3 separate regions of the Homo sapiens genome follow, and regions 1 and 2 are each reported to be linked to region 3. The links are microRNA targets in miRTarBase. Many come from high-throughput screens and were not tested one by one. Region 3 holds a microRNA gene; each other region holds the end of a gene's coding sequence.
Evidence for each region. The annotated mature microRNA hsa-miR-2467-3p reads AGCAGAGGCAGAGAGGCUCAGG and lies in region 3 at 2,573-2,594, shown strand. An mRNA with a match to its seed (bases 2 to 7 or 8) in the 3' UTR can be bound and repressed. Matches are read on the target gene's strand: a 7mer-m8 pairs with bases 2 to 8, a 7mer-A1 pairs with bases 2 to 7 and ends in A, and an 8mer does both.

Region 1 (7,497 bases), not on the chromosome of region 3:
ATTTTTAAAACTCCTATAAATATCATTCTACTTCCCTTTATTGCTAAAATGGGAGCTTTTTCATCCAGTTTTTTGGGTGTGTTCCAAATATTTTGTTAAATTTCCCGTCTATTGCTGTTATTGTTTCCATTTATTTGCCCATGTGAGTTGATACCTTTTTCATTCCTTTCCCATAGCTTTAGTGACGTTGTGGGAAGGGAAGTTAGGTAAGTGATGTTTCATCTTGTACTTACTAGACACCTTTTTCTTCCTTGATTTCCTGAGTTCCCTGCCTCCACAGGTGTGTTTCACTCCTGGTTGCTTATATTTTTTTATTTTTGAGATGGAGTTTTGCTCTGTTGACCAGGCTGGAGTGCAGTGGCATGATCTCGGCTCACTGCAACCTGTGCCTCCTGGGTTCAAGCGATTCTCCTGCCTCAGCCACCCAAATAGCTGGGATTACAGATGCGCACCACCATGCCCAGCTAATTTTTGTATTTTTAGTAGAGACGGGGTTTCACCATGTTGGCCAGGCTGGTCTTGAACTCCTGACCTCGTGATCTGCCCACCTTGGCCTCCCAAGGTGCTGGCATTACAGGTGTGAGCCACCGTGCCCGGCCTCTGGTTGCTTATTTAACCCCTTTGTCACGATGGAGGCTTTTCTCTTTTTTTTTTTTTTTTTTCAGATGGAGTCTCTCTCCATTGCCCAGGCTGGAATGCAGTGGTGCTATGTCCGCTCACTGCAAGCTCCGCCTCCCGGGTTCACACCATTCTCCTGTCTCAGCCTCCTGAGTAGCTGGGATTACAGGCATGCACTACCACGCCCGGCTAATTTTGTATTTTTAGTAGAGACGGGGTTTCTCCATGTTGGTCAGGCTGGTCTTGAACTCCTGACGTCAGGTGATCCGCCTGCCTTGGCCTCCCAAATGGTAGGATTACAGGCGTGAGCCACCAGACCCTTTTTTTTTTTTTTTTTTTTTTTTTAAGAGACAGGGTCTCCTGTCGCCCAGACTGGTGCAGAGCTCACTGCAGCCTCAAAAACTCCTGGATTCAAGTGATCCTCCCACCTCAGCCTCCAGAGCAGCTAGAGCCTAGCTAAAAAATTTTTTAAAAACATTTTATGGCCAGGCACGGTGGCTCATGCCTATAATCCCAGCATTTTGGGAGGCTGAGGCAGGTGAATCACGAGGTCAGGAGTTCAAGACCAGCCTGGCCAAGATGGTGAAACCCCGTCTCTACTAAAAATACAAAAAATTGGCCAGGCTTAGTGGCAGACGGCTGTGATCCCAGCTACTCGGGAGACCGAGGCAGAGAATTGCTTGAACCTGGGAGGTGGAAGTTGTGGTGAGCCGAGATTGAGCCACTGCACTCCAGCCTGAGCGACAGAGTAAGACTCCGTCTCAAAAAAAAAAAAGTATTTTACCCATCCACAGGCAGCAGACAAGGAAGTACCTTCTGTGACTGTCTGGCAAGGTCAGAGGCATCAGGGAAGGTAAAATACTGAAACTATATTTTTAAAAATAAAAGTATTCCCTTTTGAGTGTGAATTAGGAATCAATGCCCCTTCTCACTACTTTTGTGAAAAAAATCACAGCTCCTGCAGCAAGTCTATGCCTGGGTAACAACCAACCCACAAAATCCAAGAGGAGGTCCCCCTCTCCCGCCTCTGTGAGGCTTGAGGAGCAGTATGTATCTGGGCCAGCCTGGTCCTCAGAGTGTGGAATTAACACCTTTCCTCTAGCAACTGTTTGTGCTGCTGAGAACAGCACAGACTCTCTGGCAGCCTGGTTCTCTCCAGAGGGAAGCCTGTGAAGCAGAAGAAACATATGGCATCTGCACTCAGGGCGCCCAGTTCCATCCGGCCTTGCTATAAAATGACTTTGCCTTTCCTTTTTTAAAATTACAAAAATAATTCAACCAATACATAAACATATGAAGTGAATCACGGAGGGCCTTCCTGCGATATCTTTTTTTGCCTACCATTTGTCATGGAATGGGTAAAGGGGACCACAGAGGGAAGAGACGCTGCCCCTTCGCAGGGCCATGGCAGTCCCCTGGGCTGCGTCTCCACGGTGCTTCCTGTGAAACGCTGTTACCACGGGCACCGCACTGGAGACCATGAAAGGGAAGAGTTTGACATCTCAGCTGTCTTTGCTATAAATAGAAATAAATAAACCTTAACTAAGGCTTGAGTACACTTAGGCCGGGCAAGGTGGCTCACACCTGTAACCCCAGCACTTTGGGAGGCCAAGGTGGGTGGGTCATGAGGTCAGGAGTTTGAGACCAGCCTGGTCAACATGGTGAAACCCTGTCTCCACTAAAAATACAAAAAATCAGCTGGGTGTGGTGGCAGGTGCCTGTAGTCCCAGCTACTCAAGAGGCTGAGGCAGGAGAATCACTTGAACTCAGGAGGCAGAGGTTGCAGTGAGTCGAGATCAAGCCACTGGAGTCCAGCCGGGGCAACAGAGCGAGACTCCATCTCAAAACAAAAAACAAAAAAAAATTTTTTTATCAGTCACCTTAACCAAATGATCAAGGTACATCACCAGTCTAATACTAATAAAAACTCTGTACATGATTGAATAAATTAATCAGTGGGGGAGAAGAGAGAATTCTCCCTTGCAGAGGAGTTGAATAATTAATGTAGGTAGCTACTCTGCCCTTAAGGAGAGCATGTAACTTCCTTGAGGTGTGGGCTGCATGTACATAATGACTTCCTTTCAAAGAGTAGGATACAGGCCAGGGCTCAGCACAGTGGCTCATGCCTGTAATCCCAGCACTTTGGGAGGCCAAGGTGGGCGGTTCGCTTGAGGTTGGGAGTTCAAGACCAGACTGACCAACATAGAGAAACCCCATCTCTACTAAAATACAAAATTAGCCCAGTGTGGTGGCAAATGCCTGTAATCCCACTTGGGAGGCTGACGCAGGAGAATCGCTTGAGCTGGAGAGGCAGAGGTTGCAGTAAGCCAAAACCGTACCATTGCACTCCAGCCCGGGCAACAAGAGCAAAATTCCATCTCAATAATAATAATAATAATGTAGTGAGACAAGAATGGGCAGCTCCCCAACAGAAAAGATTTTCTAAGAAACTTAATGTTTGCCAAGCCTCACTAAATCAAAATCAAACAATGACATAATCTGTTTTTGCCACTTAGACTGGCAAAGTTTTAAACATTGATAATACTGTTGGCAAGCACGTAATTTTTGTATCACAGTAACATAAATTGGTAAAAACCTTTGGCAAGTGTAAATGACAATGAATTAAAATTTTAAATGTCCCTACTCTTTGACCCAACAATTCTACTTCCAGGAATAATATCCTGAAGTGATTTTCACCAACGCTCAAAAATAAGAATAAGGTTGGGCATGATGGCTCATGCCTGTAATCCCAGCACTTTGGGAGGCCCAGGCGGGCAGATTACTTAAGCTCAGGAGTTCAAAACCAGCCTCGGTAACATGGTGAGACCCCATCTCTACAAAAAAAAATACAAAAATTAGCCGGGTGTGGTGGTGCAGGCCTGTAGTCCCATCTACTTGGAGGGGTGAGGCAGGAGGGTCACTTGAGACTGGGTCGAGGCTGCAGTGAACCGAGATCATCATGCCACTGTATTCCAGCCTGGGTGACAAAGTGAGAGCTGGTCTCAAAAAAAAAAAAAAGAGAACAAAGATGTTCAGTTTGGGTCAAGGGCTCATGCCTGTAATCCCAACTACTTAGGAGGTTGAGGTAGGAGGATCAATTTAGCCCAGGAGTTTGAGACTGGACTGGGCAACTTAGTGAGACCCCATCGCTACAAAAATAAATAAGCAATAAATCTTTTTTAAAAAGATGTTCAGGCCAGGCACAGTAGCTCACGCCTGTAATCCCAGCACTTTTGGAGACCGAGGTGGGCGGATCACGAGGTCAGGAGTTTGAGACTAGTCTGACCAACATGGTGAAACCCCGTCTCTACTAAAAATACGAAAATTAGCTGGGTGCGGTGGCATGTGCCTGTAATCCCAGCTACTCAGGAGGCTGAGGCAGGAGAATCGCTTGAACCCAGGAGGTGGAGGTTGCAGTGAGCTGAGATCACGCCACGGAATTCCAGCCTGGGCGACAGAGTGAGACTCCGTCTCAAAAAAAAAAAAAAAAAAATGTTCGGCCAGGCGTGATGGCACCCACCTATAATCCTAGCACTTTGGGAGGCCGACAGAGGTAGGCAGACCACTTGAGGTCAGTTCGAGACCAGCCTGGCCAACATGGCAAAACCCCATCTCTACAGAAAATATAAAGATTAGCTGGGCATGCTGGCATGTGCCTGTAATCCCAGCTACTTGGGAGGCTGAGGCAAGAGAACTGCTTGAAGCTGGGAGGCAGAGGTTGCAGTGGGCCGAGATCACGCCTCTGTACTCCGGGCCAGAGTGACACTCTGTCTCAAAAAAAGAAAAAAAAAATGTTCATTGTGGTACTGTGGATAACAGCCATGTACTAGAAATCCCCCATGCCTGTCACTAGAGGAACCAGGAGATAAATGCCGGGACAGCTACACGCAGAAAGGAAGGTGGATGGTGTTTCCAGGGCAAGGAAGATGTGTGTGTATTGGACATGTCAACATGTCTAACACATGCTGATCAGTGAAAGCAGGTTGCATAGTAGTGTGAACAGAATGTTCCTGTTTTTGTAAAAGAAAAATGGGTTTATGCAAATAAAAGGCAATATGGTAGAATATTCACCAAGCTGCCAGGAATCAGGATCCCAGAAGAGAAGGGATAGAGAGCACTCTCACTTTATATACACACACGCCTTTTTAAAATGAGTATATATTTGTCTAATAAGCAGAAAAATACAAATAAAAACAAATCATTAGTAGAGCGTTTCTCATAATTACTTTAAAATGTCTTAGCATAATGAATGGTGCATACGCTACAATTTATCCATCCTTATTTATTTATTGAGTCGGGGTCTCGCTCTGTTACCCAGGCTGGAGTGCAGTGGCGCCATTTCAGCTCACAGCAGCCTCTACCCAGGCTCAAGCGATCCTCCTACCTCAGCCTCCCGAGTAGCTGGGACTACAGGCGTGCGCCACCAGGCCCGGCTATATTTTTTTCTATTTTTGGTAGAGACGGGGTTTCATCATGTTGGCCAGGCTGGTCCCGAACGCCTGAGCTCAACCGATCCGCCCGCCTCAGCCTCCCAACGTGCTGGGATTATAGGCATGAGCCACCACGCCCGGCCTATCCATCCTTATTCATATTATGTAGGAATCAGAGCTCTCCATAATGTCCACTATTATAAATGAACAGCATAATTCCCTTGGTCATAACTTCCATTCCAAATTCTTGCTCAGCTCTCGGCCCCGTGTGACACCTGGGGGTAAGAACCAACTACGTATGCGCTCAGAAACTCACCTGGGGTCTCCTGGCTGCCGTGACTGAGTACCAGGGGCCTAGGCAGAGGGAGCAACCGAGAGAAGAGAAGGCAAGACCAGGCCCAGCCCCTTCATCGGCCCTCGCCAGATCACTCTCTCTCAAGGGGTCAGGATTCAGACTTTCGTGTTTCTCTCCAAATCTGAAGTTTACAAAAGTAGCCGAGCTGCTCATCAGGGATATGCAAGTCTGCTTTCTGCAGCAGAGAACAGAAGTGAAAGGGAGAAGGGATGAGCAAGAAAGTCTCTGGATTTCAGGAGAAGGAAGACAGCCCCAAGGGCAGGAGAAACACTTGTGAAGGGTCCATTGAAGAGACAGAGAGGGGGCAGCTCTGGCCTCTCTGCTGCCACTTCCCTCATTCGATGCACAGCGGTGGGGCTCACACCATTTTCCACTCAGCCTCTTCCGCACAACCTGCACATCTATCGTTTCTTCAGGGGCTGGAGCTGGTTCCACGATGCCTAGCCAAAATCAGGAGGGGGTCCTGGGGCCAGCGACTACCACTGTGACCAGATTATTATAAAGATGGGGGAATGTGGCTTTAAAAAAGTGGGGAAAGGACCCAATTTTCCAAAATGCAAATTTTTTCTTCTATTGCCCCCCATCATTTGCACCTATTTTTGTCAAGTCCAAACATAATTTGAAGTGAGGTAGGTAGTTTCTCTCTACTTCTGCCGTTGTCCTTGGGGTGATGTCGGGGCCTGTGCCCTAAATGCACTTGTCTCCTGTGCAGGGGCAGTGCCAGGGCTGGCATCAGTGGCTGGTGGAGCTTCTCAGTTGGCTATTTTCTCAATCTCGTCCAAATCATCTGTGTCCAATCTTTCTATCTTCTTATCTGGGGGAAAGATACACAAGTCTCTACCCTGCCCAGGAATGTGCCCCACCTCAGGCCACAGCAATCATTCATTCAGGCCCAAAGGCTCCGGGTGCCTAAGCAGGGGGCAGCAGGGCCCCTAGTCACTGACAGCAACAGTCAGAGCCCCACGCCCCGAAGCCCAGTCACAGGGGAGCTGTCCTTGGAGTCCCTGGGTCCTGAAGTCTCCAGGTGTGCTCCCTGAGAACTGCCATATGGTCAGAAAGGAGGGGAGTGTGCTAGGGACAGAGCCTCTCTTGGGGCTACAGAAGATCCTACCCCTTTCACCACCCCGCCCTACTTAGCAAAGGGCGCCAGGCACAGGACCCTCCCCGGGACTCACTAAAATGCTCCTGGATTCTGTTCAGGATGTTCATGCTGTGCTTGCTGTCCACCATGTTCACTGCCAGGCCCCTCTTGCCAAAGCGGCCCGTGCGCCCGATCCGGTGCAGGTAGGTCTCATTGTCAGGATTCCCGTCCTTGTCCACGGGAAGATCAAAGTTGATGACGACAGACACTTGTTCAACATCAATGCCTGCAGGAAGGAGAGTTGGAGGCTGAGAGGACTAAGGACAGGAGACAGAAATCACTGTCATCCATAGGTAGGTCAATGCGTACCAACTTTGGGATAGAGGGAAAGAATTTGGGACAGGCCAACTCTGGGTACAAGAGAGGGCACACATATAGGCAGGCAACAGAACCCAGAGGAAAAGAAGAGAACTTTGGCAAGTGCCAACAAAATCATGAGATCAGTCGGTAATCCTCTGGGAGACACAATGTTCTGGAGATGGGCGCCCCTGGAAGAGTAGGCTCCGTTCTCTACCAGTCAGATGCCTGTACATTTCCTTCCACCAAGTCAGGACTACTGGTTTCTGCGGGAGTTCCTTTTCTTTCTTTCTTTTTTTATTTTTGAGACGGAGTTTCGCTCTTGTTGCCCAGGCTGGAGTGCAATGGCGCGATCTCACTCACCGTAACCTCCACCTCCCGGGTTCAAGCGATTCTCCTGTCTCAGCCTCCTGAGTAGCTGGGATTACAGGCGCATGCCACCACGCCCGGCTAATTTTTGTATTTTTAGTAGAGATGGGGTTTCACCATATTGGTCAGGCTGGTCTCGAATTCCTGACCTCAGGTGATTCGCCCACCTCGGCCTCCCAAAGTGCTGGGATTACAGGCGTGAGCCACTGGGCCTGCCCTCTTCCTTTTTTTTTTTGGAGACAGAGTCTCACTCTGTCACCCAGGATGGAGTGCTATAGCACATTCTC
Region 2 (7,497 bases), not on the chromosome of region 3:
CGCCCACTGAGATCAACTTGCCCTGTGCATGGAGATGTAGTAACTGTGTGTGAGTCAGGACAGATGGGGGGTGGGGGCACTGCGATCACCTTGCCCTGTGCAGGGGTCACTCCTCACACAAGTACATGAAGACTACAAGTGCAAGAAAGCAGCAACGAGGTCTCCACTTCTGTCAGCACTGGCTGGCAGTCTCTGCTAGAAGCCAACTGTTCGATTAACTATTGACTTGGCCTGCTGACTTTTTCAGGCTACATCAGTGAGGAGGAATGGGCTGGTAAAAGCACGGGAATGCCAAAGGAGACTGGTGACGTATATGGCCTTTGTAAATGGGAAAGAGGACCACACGAGCCAAAGGTTTCCAAATTCAGAGGAAAATAGAAGAATGATCACGAATGACAGGAAGGCAGGTGCTGACAATGTTCTCATGAAGGGGCCTAAGGGAGGGCTCTGAAGCTCAGGAAGGATGGCCACAAGCGGTGGGAGTTGGGGCTGGGACCCAGGAGCAGGACTGATGCCAGACAAGGACCCAGGGAAATGGCATCCATGTGACAGTGCCCAGAGCAAGCTGAGGCTCGAGAAAAATTCTGAGACAGTGCAAAGACTTAAAAACTAAACCACAGTTTGGCAAATGATGAGCACAAGAAGGTTAACTCCCTGTTTGGGGATAGTGGTTAGTGGAGCACCTTCATCCTCGGACATCTACTTGCGTAGGTCAGAGCCCCAGGCTTCACCCAGTTTAAAGTGTTACCCTAAAGTGTGGTGCGTTGACATGCTGAATACTTTGAACTGAAGAAGCAGCCCCAGAACCAAGGTCCCTCTGACCTTCTCTAGACCCTGTCCCACACCTCTTTGCCTCTCCCGAAGGGCAAGGAGGGGCTTTCTTGACTAAGGGAAGTTCCTCCAGAAGGAATGCAGTTGTCTTGGACTCCCTTCCCTAGCTTGTCAAACAGAGATGAACTTACAGGAAAGAAGGCTTGGAAAGACGACTGGAGTGGATACCACACCCGGGACCCAGGGGAACTTTGCTCTAGGCCATTGTCTGTTCTTTGGACCCATTTATCTTCCCTAAAAAATCATTTACTCTTCCTCAGAATTGCAACCCCCAACTCCCTCTCCTCTACAAAGAGGATATTTAAGTTTCAACCATCTGGTTCTTCTTAGAGTTGCACACTTCGTGCAACTCCCCTGGGCTTGCATGTTAATAAATTTGTAGGCCTTTTCTCTGGTTAATCTGTCTATTGTCAGTTTATCTCAGCAGATTCAATTATGGAACCTTCAGAGGGAAAGTTTGAACTTTCCTTCAAAGGGAAGTCTTTATTTCTAACAATGCCCCTCCTCCCTTCTGTGGAAGAGTAGCCTCCTGATAGAGCTTTGGGGCACACCTGGAGGAGGAGAGGAAGGTGTGGCAGCAGGAAGCAGGCCAGGTGGCTCTGCGCAGGGCTGGAGGCTGCACTGGGTGGCCCTCAAGGGCTGTCATACCTTTCCCCATTCACCGCTTCCACATGAAGAAAGTAGTGCCTCTGAGTTCTTCTTGCCCCAGGTCCTACCTCCACATAACCTTCCACAGGAGGGTGTTTCCCCTGAGCAGAACTCTGGGCCTGGCAGCTCCTGGCCAGTATGTGGGGCCCAGATGTGGAACTGTGCTCTGGAGTGGCATTTGTGAGACTGGTTTAACCAGAAACTCCCGGGAATTTGCACCTCTGCATTGACTCTTTCCCACACTTGGAGAATCTGATGAGGTGAATTGGAAATAGGGCTGGGATGAATAACAAGTGTTAACAAGTGCACAGATGATTCTGAGGCCCAGGCAGGCTGGAGCATTCTGCTAGAAGCCAGCAGCTAAGGGAGGAGCCCACCCATCCACCTGGTGGAAGGGAAGACCCCTCTGCTCAGGCGGCTCTGTGAGGTGACACTGAGGAAGCCTAAACAAGACTCTGGTGGTGACAAGCTCAGGGATGTGGCTCCGAGTTTGCTCCACTCACTTTGGACTTCACATCTGAATGATTTGGAAGACCTGTACAAACAGGTGTGTTCAACTTCATGGTGTATCTAGGCCAAAATGTTTCCTACATGCACAGAGTTCAGGTTTTGCCACAGAGCTCCCCTTTTGTATGCAAATGTTTTCCATCATGTGCCTATGGCCACTCCTTGTTGAGACCTTGCATCCTTGCCGGTGGCATACTGGAGCCCCAAAAGTAGCCTGGGGTCCCAAAAGATAGTTAGGTCCCTTCTGATACCTGAATCCATCCTTGTCTTAGGAAAGGGGTCATCAGCTTCCATTGTACATTTCCAGTGGCAGGGAGCTCAGTTATCCCTAGCAGTTGACGTAATGTCAAGACGATCCTAGTGGCTGGATGTCGTGGCTCACGCCTGTAATCCCAGCACTTAGGGTGGCCAATGTGGGTGGATCACTTGAGGTCAGGAGTTCGAGACCAGCCTGGCAACATGGCAAAACCTCGTCACTACTAAAAATACAAAAATTAGCCAGGTGCGGTAGTGCGCACTTGTAATCTCAACTACTCAGGAAGCTGAGGCAGGAGAATTGCTTGAATCCGGGAGGCAGAGGTAGCAGTGAGCTGAGATCGAGCCACTGCACTCCAGCCTGGGCAACAGAGTGAGACTCTGTCTCAAATAAAAAAAAAAAAAAAGATGATGCTCGTCCTCAGAGATGCCTTTCTCACATTGAGTGTCAATCATCTCCCTGCAACTCCCCCACCTAGATGTGCTGCTCTCTTCCTTTGCACAAGACATTGCTGTGGAGACATGAAGACATCCAGTGCACCTCCCCAAAATTTATACAGGCTAAGCAGAGACTGACAGCACTTAGAATTCAATGCACAAATGGATCAACCACCCAGGGAAGCTTGTGAAGATGGAGATAGGGATTCTGGACTTCTCACAAGCCCCTGGTGATGTGGAGGCTGCTGCTGCAGGGACCGCACTTACGAAGTACTGGTTGAGTATTAAAGAGTCCACCTAGAAGTAAGAGGGGCCCAAGACCCTGGCATGGCCCCTCACTTAGTGGCTCTGTGACCGTGGGCAGTTACATCCCATCTTGGCACCTTTGTTTCCTTTACAGTAAAATGAGGCTAATGAGGGCCTCTCTCAAGGGCTTGCTGGGAGGACCAAGTCCAGGCTCAAGCTCCCCACTCATGGGCCAGCGCATGGTACATGTTTGACAATGTGAGCCCTTGGTCATGTTTAGTTGAACAACCCGGGACCTTCAACTGTTTCCTGGAGGTGCTCCACCTCCATGTCCTCTCCCCAGGAGACATTTAGAGGGGTCATACTCATAGAAAAGGGCCAGGGTACTACACAGAAGATGCAGACAACATCTGTAATTTCCACAAACAACATGTTGTCATAAATCTCACCACTGTCCTACTAAACACAATGGCAGAAATAGTGGTTTTGCTGGGCAACCCCTGTGAGTGAAATATCAATTCAGAAGCTGAAAGACCTATCAACCAAGGTCTATCCTGTGAGGCTACACTGGTTCAGCTTTTGTGCTGATTAGAAATGCTGATGAACAGTTAGCTAAATTAATATGCTTTGATATAGCAAGACAAATCTATTAGTATTTAATCAATGTCATCTTTGATAGATTAAAGCTGGGGAAATTCTGAATTTTTTCATAAATTAATGGACAGCTTTGTGTTTCTTGACTTGGCTCAGGTGCCAACCCCTGAAGCCAGAGCAAGTTAGGTGTTCCTCAGAACAACCTATTAAATTACGTAACATGTGGGATTGTAATTATCTTTCTTCTCTGTTAGATTTTAACTCCTTGAGTGCAGAGACCAGATCTTATTGTCATGGTACCATCAGCGCCCATCAAAGTGCCTGGCACAGTGCAAATGTTTGTAAAAGGGAGGGAGGAAAGAAGAAAGGAAGAGAGAGAAGGAGAGAGGGAGGGAAACAAGGAAGGGAGAAAGAAGGAGGGCGTGAGGAAGGAAGAAGGCATACATGACCTCCCTCAGGAGCAAATGGAAAGAGGAAAACATCACTGGCTAGTGAGTTGGGCTTCACTGGATGGAGACTCTCTGCTTGTGTTCCCTGGAGGCATTCTGTGCTTCAGGAAGACAGGCCCAGTGCTGTAAGGGAGTGAGGCGTCCTTCTAGCTGACTTGCTGGGAGCAAGACTTTATGTGTTTAGTTCTACCCACAGCCTTGCCAATATTGGTTCTAAGGAAGAAGATCGCTTCCCCAAAATAAGTTCCCCAAAGTAATATTTTCTCCTGTGGGGACATAGTTACTATAACCGTGGTTCTTATTGAACAGATGGACTCTTCCTTCGTTAGACAATTCTTTTCCTTGGACCCTGAGAATTGCAAAATGAGATATTCCTTCTCATGTTTTAGTGAGATGAAAACAAAGTGGAGAGGATGCTTGAGGTGATTTGGAGGCAGGCCAAAATGCAGCTTTGTTCTTGTCGCTTGCACCCAGTGAGCGACTCATGGGAACCAGATTTTGGGATAGTGATCTGCTTGCACTCCTGGCTGGTTGCGTGGCTGGCAACAGGTGTGGCCAAATTGAATGGCATTGGTTGGGAGGAAAGGAGGGGGCGTTGTGTGGTATTTTCACAATGAAAATCAGGTGTGGCTGCACTTGTTGGGAAAACAAAAAGGTATAAAATCTTGAATCCAAATCAAAGCCCCTGTATTTGTGTGAGTCTGGGACTTGGTTTACTGAATGCCTCCCCATCCTCCCAGTGTGGAAATGGCGCCTTTGCCAACAGGACAAGGACAATGCATCTTGCATGGTCCCCTGGGCCCTGGGCAGCATAGTCCTGGCAGCTGCTGAGGTTTCTAAACAAAGAGGGAGGCACGTTTTGCCCCTGTGTTTCCAGTAGAACAAGAATTAAGAGGCTTCTGTAGAAGCCGTGGCATGGAAACCTATCAATACCCTGGGTGCTGGTTTCCTTCCTAGCCGGCTGCCTGCAAGAGGGCACCTGTTCTGAAGATCGAGCAGGGTCCCCTCCCCAACCATGGAAATACAGGAAAATCTTGGTTTCCTTCAAGGGAAATTCCAGGCACTTAGCTAGCCCTAAGAAGCCAATGAACAACTTGATAAGCAGGAAGGTAATAATAACCTAAAACAACAGCGAAGGAAGCCAGAGTCCTGGGGTGTTTTGTTCCCTCTGGAAATTAAAAAGAACATCTCAACTTCTGACTCCGAGTTGTTTTTCAGAAACCCAGACCCCCACCAAACGGATCCACTGGCACAGAGACCTCAGAGAAGAGGGAGCTGAGGACTGAACTCTGAGCACGGCTCTTTGTTCTATATTTCTTCCTGGGGGGCCTGGGGGAAGTCCCACCCACAAGCCAGAGCTAACATTCCTTTCTGCTAACCCAAATTTTAAAACAAAGCTTCTCTTCCTTAACCAATTGCAATTCAGAAAATGTTTGACTCCACCCTATGACCCGTAAGTCCCTGGTTCAAGATATCCTGCCTTTTTAGGCCGAACCAATGTGTACCCTCCATGTGTTGATTTACAATTTCACCTGTAACTTTGGCTTTCCTGAACATTTCCCTTGCCATTAAAAATCCATGCTTGCAAGCCACGGGGGAGGTTGGGTTTTAAGCGTGAGCTGCCTGATTCCCCTTGCTTGGTGCCCTGCAAATAAACACCCTCCTTTCTCCCACTGCAAACCTCAGTGTGGATTTTGGCTTTACTGTGCTGGGCCAGTGGATCCGTTTCATTAGGTAAAACTCTCAAACTCTTCAGTTAATCCCAACACTTCCCTCCAAATCCCCAAAGGTCAGGAACTGATGGGGGGTGAGGGTGTGAACACACTTTCTTTTTGAGTGGAGGGCACAGGTACTGGTTACTAAATCAGGGCAGTCAGGACCCACTGGAGGGCCTGGCCCTGAGAAGGCATGGACAGGTGTTGAAGGGACAAGGTGGGACGCCAGACTCAGACTGTGGTAGACAGGGAGGTGGCTCTGTCAGCCCTGACCCCTACTGCCCACAGAAGGAAGACAGGAGTCCAGGAAGAGAACCGTATCTGCAAACTTGTTTCACTTTTTAAAAAGTGGGCCTTTTCTTGATCAGAAAATAGCTTTCAGAGGCAAGTTTCTCCCTGTGAAGGAAACCCATTCTGTGCAAATGATCATTTCTGCAAAATTGCCCTGGGCTGGTCCTTAGCCAGTCTGCCTGAGTTGACCTGAATGCCTGCTGAGTCTGAGCTGGGGGCCTTAGGGGTTTGCTCATCAAGGAGCTTACAAGTGAGTGGGTGGGTGTGGGTACAGAGGGACACTTGGGACCAGGCGGTGCCCTTGCCACACCCACCTAATTTGCAGGGCGAGGGAAGAGCAGGGTGGGCCAGGAGAGGGAGGAAGGGAGGGAGGGAGAAGGGCTGGAGTAGAGTGCGCCTGGGAACTGGCACGGAGGGGACCGGGCCAAGCAAGCAGTGCCCCTCCATCAGAGGAGAGCCAGGGAGCCCTTTGGGTGAGGTCGTCTTGGGATCCCTACTGCCTTCTGGACTTTATGGATCTAAAAAGGCTAAGTATGTGTTGATGATCGTGTGTGTGTGTGTGTGTGTGTGTGTGTGTGTGTGTGTTGCTTGTTTTGGGGGAGGGGGAAGTAAGCTCCTCTGGGTTCATCTGGGGGTGGGGGACAGCCTGCAGTAACTCAAGAAATGCCTTCTGTGGCAAAGTCCTCTAGGTCATCAGTGGAGATGATGCCCAGGCCTGGAGCTTCTACACCCTCCTCTCCTGGGCTCTGGGGAGGACCATGAGGGCGCTGGCCTGCAGAGTGCGGGGTGCAGTCACCGTGAGGCCCTGGGTCCAGCTGTAGTCCAGACTCGTGGACACTCTGGGTCCTGGCGCGGGCCGCGGAGGCACGAGGGCCCTGCCTGAGGAAGGTGGGCGCGGAGAGCTGAGAGGAGCAGCGCAGCGGCATCAAGGCCGTCACGGGCACTGGCTGGAAGCCGGGGTACAGCACATAGGGAGCGGCCAGGGCGTCCGGTGGGGGCGGCTCTGGGGAGGCCCCCTCGGAGGACGGGATGGAGACCTTGACATACTTGCCCGTCTCTGGGTCATAGAAGGTCTTGATTTTCACCTGGAGTGGCAAGTCGAAGACAAAGTACTCCCCGGACTGCGGATCCTGGAGGACCTTCTGGGTGGCGGGGTACGCGGGCAGGGGTGTGAGGGACTGGGGGCCCCCGGGCCGCCTCCCGACAGGCTCCGAGAAGCCGGACACGGAGTGGCGGTGCACGGGAGGGGGCAGGGAACGGACCACGGGGAAATTGTGTCGGGGCCTCTCTCTGGGGCACAGCGGCCTTTGCTGTGTCTGCTCCAAGTCCTCCGGGCAGGGCTTTCCCTCCTGTGACTCGCCATGCTTCTCCTGAGCCTGATCCGTCTTCCTCCTCTTACTTGCCAGCTTCTTTGCCCGCCGCAGGGCTTTCTCTGTTTTGGGTGGGACTGCAGGTGGCTTGCTTGCTGTCCTCTCTAGCTGTGCAGGAAGCTCAAGTCTCCCAGAGGTGCCTGCTGGGCTGGT
Region 3 (7,497 bases):
TGGGAGCAGCAGGCTCATCCGAAGCTCCTGAAGTGGGGCGGGGCAGCTGTCTATCCACACATGGAATAGGAAACAGCCCTTCAAAACGAAGCTTACCAGGTATTGTTAATGCCATTGGAAAATGCCTGGCTGTAATATCAGCACAGAGAACGTGATAGACAGCTGTATCACTAGAGGTTCGTATGGGCAAAAGGCAAAGAAAAACAACGGCAAGGAAGCATGTCAGAATGTTACCAAGGGCTTGTCTGTGTGTGATGGCATCATGGATGACTTTTTAAATACTTAACCTGTGATGCGCATGTATTGCTTTTATAAGCAGAAAATGAAAACCTGAGAAAATGGTCATTATGAAGACAGAAACATGAGGGAACTATTTTAGGTTATCATGTTACGTGAGGAATGCGGACTTTAGAATTAAATTCTGTGATTACACAGACATTGTGACTACGAATGTCTATGGATCCAGGCTGATGCAAGCGTGCAGTAATGACATTTTGTGGTGGGAATGTGCTGAAAGTGATTTTTCTTTTAAAACATTTTATTTCATATTTATTTCATAAGCTAATATGACAGAATAAATTTATATTAGTTGGAAGATACTCTGCTTCCTTTCAAAAGCCTAATGTTGGAGAAACTTCTGGAAGGGGTAAGGAAGGTGTCTCTAGATCAGATATTTTGAACCAGGGGATGATATTATCCCCCAGAGGACCTTTGGCACTCCCTGGAGACATTCTTGGTTGTCATGACCTGGAAGATGCTGCTGGCATCTGGTGTGTGGAGGCCCAGGATCCTGCTAAATATCTTATAATGTGTATGGCAGCCCTACACCCCAACACCTAAATACGCAAACCAAAATCCCAGTGGTACTGAGGCTGAGAAACCCTGCTCTCTGGAGACATTTTTACATGTCTGTGATTTACTAACAAAAATCCCACTGCTCGTATTTGTAGAAATGATTCCGTCGAACTGTTCTATCAGTCCTTGGTCAGAACAAGGATAAAGAAGGAAGTTGGTGGGGCGTGGTGGCTCAAGCCTGTAATCCCAGCACTTTGGGAGGCTGAGGTGGGTGGATCACTTGAGGTCAGGAGTTTGAGACCAGCCTGGGCCAACATGGCAAAACCCCGTTTCTACTAAAAATACAAAAATTAGCTGTGCCTGGTGGCATGCACCTGTGTTCCCAGCTACTCGGGAGGCTGAGGCAGGAGAATTGCTCGAACCCAGGGTTGCAGGGGTGGTGGAGGTTGCAGTGAGCCCAGATCGTGCCACCACACTCCAGCCTGGGCGATAGAGCAAGATTCTGTCTCCAAAAAAAAAGAGGAAGTCATCATTTCCCTAGTTGGATGTTGTTTTCCAGATCGGAACTTCCATGTTGTAACTCCAGTCTCTTTTCTCCTTCTGACCTTGCAGGTTCATCTGCAGAAGCCAGCGGACGCCTCTGTTCAACTTGTGGGTTACCTGGCTCATGAGACCTTGCCGGCGAGGCTCGGCGCTTGAACGTCTGTGACCCAGCCCTCACCGTCCCGGTACTTGTATGTGTTGGTGGGAGTTTGGAGCTCGTTGGAGCTATCGTTTCCGTGGAAATTTTGAGCCATTTCGAATCACTTAAAGGAGTGGACATTGCTAGCAATGAGCTCCCAAAGCCATCCAGGTAAGGCCGGGTCATTTCTTCTCTGGGCACACAGCGGGGCTTTCTTTGCCCAAAGTAGAAGTTCTTGTGACTGCAGCTTGCTTTCTGGATTTGAGACTTTTGTTTTTCTTGATAGTGGTCACTGTTGGTTTTTGACAGCACAAAGTGCAAAATGGATGGTTTATTCTTCCTCTTGGTGAAAGAAGAATGATAAAACCTGGGAGGATGTGGAGTCAAGTCTGCGACCCCGGTTTGCAGGCTGACTTGAGAGGCACACAGGTTTCCTCGATGCTTTTTGACAAGGGTGATGTTGAAAGGTCAGGTTGTGATGTGGAGAGCTGGTTTCTTGCCCAGTGTCTTTGTTGTTTCATGAGGGGTTGTGTGAGGGGTGGGAGTGCTCCTCCAACTGGGCGTCTGGGCTGTCTGGGAAGAAGCTCATGTTCCCACTGAGGTCGTGGCCACAGTTGCTCCTGGTGTTTGAGGGCCTCTGTGAGGGGCTGCACTAAGCATTTTACAAGCATTTAGTACAGCCCCAGATCATCTCAGGCCTGGAGGGAAGAAGTAATTTGCCTGAGGTCACAGAGCTGGTAGGTGGGGGACCCACATGATTGGGAAGCAAGCTTGTCCTGCTCTGAGCTTCAGAAGCATGTCATGGGCCCATCCATTTACGACTTCACACTTTCTGTCCTTGGAAAGTCACCGAGAGCGTGCACCATAATGAAACCTCGAGGCCTGCCGCCGACCTGCCTGAGTGTGGGGCTCCTGCAGAGCCAGTCCTGTGCTGCCCAGCTTCCTGCCACTTCCAGCGCACCGTGGCCTTCAAGGGCACTTAGCCATCGACTTCTGTCTTGCGTCCACATGAGAGAGAAGACGGTGGCCACTGGACAGACGCTTGGACAGGCACCTGAGGCTCTGTTAGCCTTGGCTCTGGGTCCTGCTCCTTAGAGCAGAGGCAGAGAGGCTCAGGGTCTGTCTGGGTCACTCTCTTTGAGATTGCCGGAACGCTTACACACATCTTTCCCTGGGTGGAATCGTCTTTGTCTGAAAATTCCAGAGGGCAAGATTCCAGGTTTTTTTAGATATGAAAGTTTTATTGAGTTAAATTGTTTATGTATTGACTGATGTAAAGAAATGGTTTATGATCATTCCAAGACAAAATTAAGCGCTATGGCTCAAAGTGTCTAAATAGACATTGAATGGAGCTGGCTCTCTCCCTCCTACACTGGGCTGCTGTTGGGTGAGAGTGTATCTTTTTTCTGTGTCTAAACATAGTGTGATGTGTGTGAGCATTTTCATAGAGTATAATTCTATAGGCAGGGCCCTGTGTTTTACATTCTGTCCATTTTAATGTGTTATAAGCATCTTTTGGTATCAGTATGTGTGCAAATATAACTTGCTCTTTTGATACCTTGCGAATGGATATTTATGTGGTTGTAGCAGTGTTTATACCAATTCCAAATTGGCATCAAACAATTATTATACATATATTTTGTAAACTTCTAAGTATCACTACTAGACAAATTCCAGGAAGTGGAAGCTGGGTCAGTGAGCCCGTGCACTTAAAACATCATTAGGTTGACTGTCAAATTGCTCCAGAAGCCTCGTTCCAACTGATCTTCCTAATTCCAGTGTAAGAGGATGCATATTTTTCATTTGTGCTGTACCAGCACTGGGTAGGTTCAGTCTCTCTCATTTTTGTCAGTGTGCTATGGGAAAATTATTGTTTGAGTACACTTGATTATTTTAATGGGGGTGCATATTTTTGTATGACTTGGTGTACACATAATCATAATTTGTACATGCTCTGCAGGCATTTGAAGAGAAAGTATGCTCTTAGGATTTTGTTTCAGTCTAAAGACGTCTGTATGTATGTATCAATATTGTATTTAAAGTTCTCGGCCGGGCGCAGAGGCCCACAGCTGTAATCCCAGCACTTCGGAAGGTCAGGGTGGGCAGATCACAAGGTCAAGAGATTGAGACCATTCTGACCAACATAGTGAAACCCCATCTCTACTAAAAATACAAAAATTAGCTGGGCGTGGTGGCGTGTGCCTGTAGTCCCAGCTACCCAGGAGGCTCAGGCAGGATAATCGCTTGAACCTGGGAGGCAGAGGTTGCAGTGAGCTGAGATTGCGCCACTGTACTTCAGCCTGGCGACAGAGCAAGACTCCGTCTCAAAAAAAAAAGTTCTCTCATTTATATATATTTTATTTATATATAGGAGGATATGTATCCTTTCTTTATATGTTGTTTTAATTATATATTAACTCAGTTGAGTTATTTAAATCAGTATAGCTTTACTTATTTTTTTCTGTCTGCTCGATTTCTTGGAAAAGTGTATTTTTCTACTGTGATTATAGTCTTATAATATTCTTTTTACATTAATAACCATTTTTTGCTTTATATAGTTCAGTGTTTTTTTTTAAAGCTTAAAAATTAATGACTGTTCTTTTGGTAGATCAGGTCTCTTATCAAAATATAATATATTTCTCTTTGTTTAATGTTTCTTTGACCGAGAGCTTATAGTGTTTCATGAGGTATTTCTACCCTTGGTTTCTTTTGGCTAACAAATATTTCTCCATCCGCTTGTCTCTAACCTTTTCAGGCCGGGTTCTTTGAGGCTCAGCTCTGGAAACCGCGGGGTGCTGGGTTTGTTTGGCCTTTTCTGTGGGAATTTCAGCCGCTGCGGTTCAGTTTGATCACCGGCCTGCCCGGGCCTGTCCTGCCCATGTGAGTTGGGTTGTGTGCGCCTTATTGCCACCCACGACCTCTCCATTCTCTCTCTCAGTGGGTTGGAGGCTGAAGACAGGCCGCACTGGTGAGGGCAGGGCTGCCCCTTGGCCCAGCCCATTCTCTGCTCTCCATCTGTGCAGGGGGTACAGCTGAGGTGGTTTGCCTGGGGCCTGAAGTCTGCTGGCTGCCTCCTCTGCCCTGTCCGCTGTCATCTTTCCCTGCCGTGTCTGCCCTTCCGCCCGGAGGTCCCTTGGGAGGCAGGACCCCTTGTGCCCAACACGTGCATACCACCACCTGCACACACTGGCTGGTGGCCCAGCGGCCTCTGCCCACGTCTCAGGCGGGGGATGGGGCTTGCCCAGAACCGTGCCCTCCCTCCTGGGCGAGGCCCACTCGCTTGTGTGCCTTCCCAAGCAGCTCCATCCCCAGAGATCTCTAGTTTCGGGAAGTTCCTCTGTGTTTCTTGTCAGCTGATGCACCTGTCCGTCCGCTCCCAGGCATTGCTGGAAGTGCTTTCCAATCCTGCTTTTCATCATTTTAGTGGGTTTTGGGAGGAAGAGAAATCATTAATACTAAAGGATTCAGTTTGCTCTCTTGAGCGGGAAATTTCTAGGTGTGTCAGAGCACAGCCACGGAACCGCTGTCCCTTTTCCTTGAGCCGAGGAGCCGAGTCCTGGCAACGTGGTGTTCGGGGCCTACCTGGCTGCACCTCCCCTCCCTCCGTGTGTCTCTCGTGCCGTCCTCTGCTAGCTGGCCCTGTCCTTCGCCCTGCCCACCCGGCTCACTCTTGCCTGCCTGGCTCACCCTTGCCTGCCCATCTGGCATGGGGGCCCTGCTCCTGTGTGGCCTGGTGTGGGTGCCCGTGCCGCCCTCACTCCCTGGGCAGGCCGGGCTGGGGGAGTCCAGCCGCCCATGGGCCCCCTCTCACATTTGTCATGTGACTTGGCTTTGCCCTGCTGATGAAGTGCCCTTCTAGTGCAGTGTGTGTGGCTTTCCTCTCCTGTGTTCTGTGAAAGTCCTCTGCTGCTGGGTGAGTTTTGTGTTACGGTTTTATTGCTGTTCCCGCTGAACTTTGCCAGAGCCAGGCCCTGGTTCTCTGACGTCAAAGCTGCTTAACTGTTGGGATTTTATTGCTCTAAAGAACGATTTCTAATGATGTGAGCGGCCTGAGGGAAGAACCTGGATTGACTTAGCCTGGAAGGGCTCTCCTTTGAAAGGAGGCCCTGGAGCCTTACGCCCCTTGCCCGGCCAGCCCTCCACACCCTCCCTGAGGGGATGCGCTGTGGCAGGGCAGGATGCGTTTGTCAGGACACAGAGCCTCTGCCTTGAAGCCAGAGTCCCTGGCATGAAACCGGGAGTGTGGACGGAAAGCCCACGGGGGCCTGCTGGCAGGACAAGCTACGCCTCCTTTTTTTTCTCCCATTCCCTTGTTTTCCTCCAAGGACAGTTCTCCAAGTAACTGTCCTTGTCTTTCCTTGTGGTTAAGGGCTTAGGATACTGGTGACTTGACTGGCCAGCAGGAAAGGCAGACGTTGTTACTTGGCCACCCACTTAACACTACCCCGTCCCTCCAGTGTCATTTACTTTCCCTTCCGGAATGTTCGTGCCTAGAGAAAGTCTTGCCCAGAAAAGTTCTCAGTGTCAAGGAGCCCCGCAGTGGATTTGCTGGGACGTGGATTTGCTGGGACGTGTCTGTGGTCAGCGGGATGGTGCTCTCGATAGGAAGCAGTGCATTTGCTGGGACGTGGATTTGCTGGGACGTGTCTGTGGTCAGCGGGATGGTGCTCTCGATAGGAAGCAGTGCATTTGCTGGGACGTGGATTTGCTGGGACGTGTCTGTGGTCACCGGGATGATGCTCTCGATAGGAAGCAGTGGATTTGCTGGGACGTGTCTGTGGTCACCGGGATGATGCTCTCGATAGGAAGCAGTGGATTTGCTGGGACGTGTCTGTGGTCACCGGGATGATGCTCTCGATAGGAAGCAGTGCATTTGCTGGGACGTGGATTTGCTGGGACGTGTCTATGGTCACCGGGATGATGCTCTCGATAGGAAGCTGGTTGAGCAGGCAGTGGTCGGTAACTTGAGCATCCTCTCGCTCCTGGAATCTTGGTGCGAGGTACGGATAATGTTTAGTTCAAAACAAAATAAGTGGCCGGGTGCGGTGGCTCAAACCTGTAATCCTCGTGCTTTGAGAGGCCGAGGTGGGCAGATCATTTGAGGTCAGGAGTTCGCGATCAGCCTGGTCAGCATGGTCAAACCCCGTCTCTACTAAAAACACAAAAATTAGCCAGGCGTGGTGGCACGCGCCTGTAGTCCCAGCTACTCGGGAGGCTGAGGCAGGAGAATCGCTTGAATCCGGGAGGTGAGGTTGCAGTGAGCCGAGATGGTGCCACTGCACTGTAGCCTGGCCGACAGAGCAAGACTGTTGTCTCAAAACAAAAAAAAAGGATTTTGTGGGAAACGTGTGTAACTTAAGATCAGTGTGTTCATTTGGGCCATTCTATGATTTCTTAATATTCTGTTCAGTCTGAGCTACCCCCATCCACATAAAAGCAGCTAAAAAGTCTCTGTCCACAATGACTTGGTGATGAGTGAGTTCATGGTAATACAGTTGCTTCAGACCACTGTTGAGTGTTAACCCTGTGAGTCCAGGGAGAAGGCTCTCCTCTGGGATTGCTTCCAGTCCTCATGTTCTGCTCTAACTTTATTTGATCTTGAATCTGTTTATTTTAACTATTGTGGCCGCCAAGATTATTATATTTTAATATAGAAATGATCCATAAAGATGCATTTTTATGGCATTTAAATAATGCTCTGCAGTGGTTGAATGTCTCAGGAATACCACAAAGTGTCTGTGTGTATGTGTGTGTTAGAGTGTGTGTTAGGGTGTGTGTTTTAGACAGGTTGTATGTGTGTGAATCAGGGTGTATGTGTGTTAGGGTGTGTGCGTGTGATGGGGTGTGTGTTTTAGACAGGGTGTGTGTGTTAGGGTGCGTGTGTGTGTTTTAGACACAATGTGTATGTGTTAGGGTGTGTGTGTGTTTTAGACAGGGTGTGTGTGTGAGAGACAGGGTGTGTGTGTTAGGGTGTGTGTGTTTTAGATAGGGTGTGTGTGAGACAGGGTGTGTGTGTTAGG

Region 1: miRTarBase lists DDX19A as a target of hsa-miR-2467-3p. Seed matches in the 3' UTR shown: 7mer-m8 at 5,407-5,413.
Region 2: the mRNA of C10orf71 is a reported target of hsa-miR-2467-3p. The part of its 3' UTR that is shown has no 7-base or 8-base seed match.

The regions. Positions count from the first base shown.
Region 1 is chr16:70,370,645-70,378,141 of GRCh38, reverse strand. It overlaps DDX19A (DEAD-box helicase 19A), which reads right to left. Exons shown (of 12, transcript NM_018332.5): 11 at 6,579-6,770; 12 at 4,759-6,217. The coding sequence ends at 6,156. It overlaps ST3GAL2 (ST3 beta-galactoside alpha-2,3-sialyltransferase 2), which reads left to right. Exons shown (of 7, transcript NM_006927.4): 7 at 1-2,165. Among named protein-coding and RNA genes, the nearest start is that of DDX19A, 27 kb to the right of the region's middle.
Region 2 is chr10:49,325,987-49,333,483 of GRCh38, reverse strand. C10orf71 (chromosome 10 open reading frame 71) reads right to left here. Exons shown (of 3, transcript NM_001135196.2): 3 at 5,992-7,497. The coding sequence ends at 6,631. Among named protein-coding and RNA genes, the nearest start is that of C10orf71, 31 kb to the right of the region's middle.
Region 3 is chr2:239,346,829-239,354,325 of GRCh38, reverse strand. It overlaps MIR2467 (microRNA 2467), which reads left to right and starts at 2,522; the gene lies at 2,522-2,602. It overlaps HDAC4 (histone deacetylase 4), which reads left to right. Exons shown (of 27, transcript NM_001378414.1): 2 at 1,408-1,648. The coding sequence starts at 1,627. RefSeq lists a silencer at 1,666-1,859.